Linked DNA regions of Homo sapiens: region 1 is linked to region 2. Evidence: fine-mapped expression QTL. Tissue or cell type: nasal epithelium. Region 2 holds a variant in brackets; the other region holds the start of a gene. All regions are shown on one strand. Distances are between the middles of the regions.

Region 1 (2,916 bases), 75 kb after region 2:
TTCCTCCTCTTCTTCCTTATCCCTTCTCCTTCATTTTCCCCACAGGCTAACTGCAACTCAGCCCACTTCATTTCCTAATTTTTCCTCCTCCCTGCATCCCCCCGAGTCTTTGTGAGATGCTCTTCCCTTCACTCCTGCCAGCCCTATGGCATCATGGCATTATCATGGTGTATGGAGAACTTCTGTCTTATCTGTTTCTCCCACTAACCCAGTGGTTTTCAACTGGAGACAATTTTGCTCCTCAGGGGACATTTGGAAAAGTCTGGAGACATTTTTAATTGTCACTTCTGGGGAAGGGGGTTGATACTGTCATCTACTGAGTAGAAGCCAAGGATGCTGCTAAACATCCTACAGTGCACAGGACAGCCCCTCACAAAAAAGGATTATCAGGCCCCAAAGGCCAATAGTGCTAAGGTTGAGAAACTGCACTAGGCTGAGTTCCTTTAAAATATGACCCTATTCAGCGCTGTTCCAGCAGCTCCACAGACAGTGTCCAGTGCCCAGTAGGAAGGAATCCAAACAGTTTTAATATTACATTTGAAATTTTAATTGAAAAACTCTTCTGACAGCTGTATGTTATAACTAATAAGCAATATGACCACATACCACAATTCAAAGGAAAACCAATATCCAGAGGTAAAGGTGGCTTACACCCATCAGTCTTTGACACTTCCTCCTATCTAGTTCTCTGTATTTCTTCCCTTTCTCCTTTTCTCTTGTCCCTGTGCTCACTGTCCCCCTTTACTGTCATGTTTGTTTGAATTCCACTTCAAAATGGGAATTTGAACAGAGTGCAATAAATTGTCCCACATTTGTTTATTTTAGGAAATCATTGCATTTAATTTTAACATTTAAACATATCAATTAGGCCAGGTGCGGTGGCTCACGCCTGTAATCCCAGCACTTTGGGAGGCTGAGGCGGGCGGATCACGAGGTCAGGAAATCGAGACCATCCTGGCTAACACGGCGAAACCCCGTCTCTACTAAAAATACAAAAAATTAGCCGGGCGTGATGGCGGGCGCCTGTAGTCCCAGCTACTTGGGGAGCCGAGATCGCGCCACTGCACTCCAGCCTGGGAGACAGAGCAAGACTCCGTCTCAAAAAAAAAAAAACTTATCAATTACTGGGTGACATGCTGTGCACTGCAAGAAAAACAAAGATAAATAGGAAACTGGGACTATCCTAACTGGGGGAGATTTCTGTAGCAGTAGAAAAGTAGAGGAAATATAGTTTTATTTCACTAATGTGATTAGGGAATATCTCATGGAGAAAGTCTTCGATTTAGGTCTTCACACATGTTTCATAAAGAATGTTAACACACCACACATAGGTAATAATGTTGTCTTTCCTTACCTGGCATCATTATGAGGGCCACTTTTTGGGGCAATGATTCCTAAATTTCAGCAACTCCTGGAGGGCTTGTGAAAGAAAGCACAGATTGCTGGGTTCTGCCCTCATAGTTTCTGAGGCAGTAGGTCTTCGGTGAAATCAGAAAACTGGTGTTTCTTTTTTCTTTTTTTTTTTGTGACGGAGTCTTGCTCTGTCACCCAGGCTGGAGCGCAATGGCGTGATTTCAGCTCACTGCAACCTCCGCCTTCCGGGTTCAAGCGATTCTCCCGCCTCAGCCTCTGAGTAGATGGGAAACAGTCGCGCGCCATCATGTTTTTGTAGAGGCGGGGTTTCACTCTATTGGCCAGGCTGATCTTGAACTCCTGACCTCAGGTGATCCGCCCACCTCAACCTCCTGAAGTGCTGGGGTTATAGGCGTGAGCCACGGCGCCTGTTTGTTTTTTTTTTTCTAATCAGAGGTTTTGCTCTTGTCGCCCAGGCTGGAGTGCAATGGTGTGATCTTGTCTCACTGCAACTTCTGCCTCCCAGGTTCAAGTGATTCTCCTGCCTCAGCCTCCCAAGTAACTGTGATTTCAGGTGCCCGCCACTACACCCGGCTAATTTTTGTATTTTTAGTAGAGGCGGGGTTTTGCCATGTTGGCCAGGCTGGTCTCAAAACTCCTGACCTCAGGAGTTCGGCCTCCGAAAGTGCTGGGATTACAGGCATGAGCCACTGTGCCCGGCCTAGAAAACTGGTGTTTCCAACAAGTCCTTTGGTGCTGCTGGTGCTACTGCGGGCCTTCTGAGGAGACTTTGAGAACCGCTGCATCAGGATTATCAGCCTGGTAACTCCTGGCCGAAGAAATGCACACCCTTCATTTGGCTAAAAGAAAGAATTTCCAATATTCATAAAGAAAACACAACTTGTGGGTTCTCCAAGCAGGAGAGGAAAAATCATGTTCCAGTCTATTCCTGTAACTAATGAAGGGCTCAGGTTTCAAAGGTAAGTTAATTGTCAGACCCACTTTATTGTACCCAGTGTCCTTGGGAAACATAATTATTTATTGGAAATATGTCACAACTAACATAAGTCTTAAAAATTTGTTAAATTAGAAACAAAATATTGTATTTGCTGATATGTTAAAACATAAGGGCCTAACATTTAGAATTGCACTTCTCATACTCACAACATGTACTCAAAATGCTGTTAACATCTACTTTGATGATTGTTTTGGGTTTACTTGAATCTAATGTTTCCATTTAATAATTCCTTTTTTTTCCCCTTTCCTTTTTTCAATCAATCCTTTCTCTTTTCTATGTTCTATATTCATGTTATCTTAGAATTCCATTTTGGCCTTCTAGGTTCTTTACTTCTTCCTCCAGCCTGTCATTTTCATGTCTTCAGTGATTTCTCAGACTTCTCACAGAAAGTTAACCATTTTTGTGCATCTTGAAACTTTTAACCTTTGATTTGAAGATAAATGCTAATAAATAAATATAATTCTTATGAATACATTATGCACAATGTTAAATTCAAAATGACTGACATGTTTCATGCTGTGTGCTATAGATATGCTAAACTTCAT
Region 2 (2,916 bases):
CTGTGCTGACATCTGGGTTGTATTAGTACGCGGTTGTTATTGTTATTATTCTCCACTGGGGAGCCAAAGAGAACACATACAGCACAGCTCCCAAATACATCAAAGGCATGGGGGACCCCTTATCTCTGGGGGATGGATTTGTGAGAGGTATCATTGCCAGCTCTCAATATGCCCCTAAGAATCACTAACTTTTATTCCTACTCAGGACCCAGGGTAAGAAGGGTGGGAAATGTTGCCGTTTCCCGGGGCTGACATGCGGGTAGCTAGGAACATCTCATACCAGTACCTACAAATGGCCACTCGCTCTTCAACCTTAATCTAATGGAAGGTGAACAGCAGGTACCCTGAAGGGGGCCCTTCCTTTTCCAGAAACTGAAATCTGTCAGAGGGCGCTGTGACTCCACAGAATTGAGTACTTCCGAGCCAATCTGCACTATCATGAGGAGCGCAGTCCCTGTGCCCCGCTGACCTGCTTGGCAAGGGCATGGTTCCGGCCGCATGTGAACAGCACCTGCATCATTCTTTCTTTCTGTGAGTGAAGAAATCTTAGTGCTAGGACTTTGCACCATTGCACATGTAAAATGTGCTTCTCTAAAGAGCCAGCATTAGAAAGTATTTTACAAAAAAACTTTTCTTATTAGGAATTTCCTATCTCCTCATCTAAAAAGTCTCCCACATGTGGTTTTGTGGTAGTTGCCCCAGCTCTTTGACGTTAGCAGCAAAGCCCTCAGCAGTCTGGGTTTCAATTTGTGAAATTCAAATCCGCAAATATTTACAAGGGTTGCTGGTGGCCAATGTGCCTTCTACACCATCACAAAATGAGGTAGGAATCTAAGGTTTCATGGTACATACTTAGAAGGCGCAGACAGTCAGGTATCTCATAAGCTCTTTTCAGAGACTCTAGTGGTTCTTTTTCTTTGTTCTTTTTCCCTTCTTTTTTCTTTCTTTAGTTAGCTATGTGTTTTCTTCCAGGGGGAATGAAAGCTTTTAACATTCAAATACCATGGAGGCCTGCTGATACACTCTTAACTGCTATAAGAAGCCCAAAGCAACTATGTTACATACATGGTACTCTTGGTTTTCAC[G/A]AAGAACGGTATGTACAATTCCTTATCAGGCATCATCTGCTATAGACTTACACTAAGAGGCTTTGACCAACTTTTTTCGTGGATGAGAAAGCAAGTACTTTCAATTGTTCTTTTTCTATTTCTGTCTTTTTTTTTTTTTTTTTTTTTTACAATTGAAACTGTGAACTGATAGTCCCAATTGTTGAAGTCATTATTTCTGTTCATCAAATGCTTCCCATTCCTCTTTCCTGAGCACATGGTGGGGCTGCATATGGCTTTGTGGTGAGTGGGACAACATGATTAGTTCTGGCCATGGATTTAACAGTAGAAATAAGATGTATTGCTCCAAGACTGGAACACTGAATTGTTCAAGAAAAACCTTCCAGAGCCATTGTTCCCTTGGCCCTAGTGACCAGCACCTTTTTCTGTGTGTGCTCCATTAAACTGGGTCCTGCAGAGAAGGTGATACAGATGGGCAGACAGTAAGAGCAAGAAATAAATCTTTGTTGTCTTAAGCTACTAGAGTTGAGAGTTGGCTGGGCGCGGTGGCTCACGCCTGTAATCCCAGCACTTTGGGAGGCTGAGGCGGGCAAATCACGAGGTCAGGAGTTCAAGACCAGCCTGGTCAATATGGTGAAACCCTGTCTTTACTAAAAATACAAAAATTAGCCGGGCGTGGTGGCATGCGCCTGTAGTCCCAGCTACTTGGGAGGCTGAGGCGGAAGAATCGCTTGAACCCAGGAGGCAGAGGTTGCAGTGAGCCGAGATCACGCCACTGCACTCCAGCCTGGGCGACAGAGCAAGATTCTGTCTCAAAAAGAAAAAAAAAAAAAAAAGAAACCCCATCTCTACTAAAAATACGAAAATTAGCCAGCGTGGTGGTGCATGCCTGTAATCCCAGCTACTCAGGAAGCTCAAGCAGGAGAATCACTTGAGCCCAGGAGGCGGAAGTTGCAGTGAGCCAAGACTGTACCACTGCACTCCAGCCTGGGCAACAGAGCAAGATTCAGTCTAAAAAAAAAAAAAAAAAAAAAAGTTGAGAGTTGCTTGTTACCACAATGTAAACTAGTTTACCCCATTGATGTAAAACCTGTGACAGAAAGGAAAACAACCTCAGGATGAAGCCAACCCCATAGATAGCAGAATGGAAAAAGTAAACAGCGTTCTGGCCATCACTGAGCCACTGGATCAACCCTCATCTGCAGGCCACTCTAATGCTAGACTTAGTAATTATGTAAGGAATAAATTCCCTCATAATTAAATCCACTTGAATCAAGAGCACCTGAACTGATACAGTGATTATGTTCCATGTTATGTGACTCCCCCACCAACAGTGGCTGTATCTTAGTGAAATAAGAGAGGGCACTAGACCTTAGAGCAAACAATATGTAGGCTGGTCGGGGTCTATGAAGTAGCCATACACAGAAGTTCTGTCTAGTGAGGACACCAGATACAGGGAAGTAACTGACCAAAATTAATACCATTTGGCTTCAAATCCTTCAGTAAGTCTATCGGTAGCAGCAGTTGAATCAGAAGCAGAGGAGGCCAGGCATGTTGGCTCACACCTGTAATTCCAGCATTTTGGGAGGCTGAGGTGGGCAGATCACCTGAGGTCAGGAGTTCGAGACTAGCCTGGTCAACATAAAGAAACCCCGTCTCTACTAAAAATACAAAAATTAGCTGGGCGTGGTGGCACACACCTCTAGTACCACCTACTCGGAAGGCTGAGGCAGAAGAATCACTTGAACCTGGGAGGCGGAGCTTGCAGTGAGCCAAGATTGCGCCACTGCACTCAAGCCTGGGTGACAGAGTGAGACGCTGTCTCAAAAAAAAAAAAAAGAAGAAGAAGAAG

The links. PIP is the estimated chance that this variant, and not a neighbour inherited with it, causes the effect.
Region 1: it holds the start of TMC1, and the variant in region 2 is the best candidate, but not a certain one, in a credible set for the expression of TMC1 in nasal epithelium (TOPMed, PIP 0.75).

Annotation. Positions count from the first base shown.
Region 1 is chr9:72,520,352-72,523,267 of GRCh38, reverse strand. TMC1 (transmembrane channel like 1) reads right to left here and starts at 1,660. Exons shown (of 24, transcript NM_138691.3): 1 at 1,355-1,660.
Region 2 is chr9:72,594,857-72,597,772 of GRCh38, reverse strand. All of the region lies in intron 2 of TMC1 (transmembrane channel like 1), which reads right to left. Among named protein-coding and RNA genes, the nearest start is that of TMC1, 75 kb to the right of the region's middle. The variant G/A (reference allele first, on the strand shown) is at 1,086.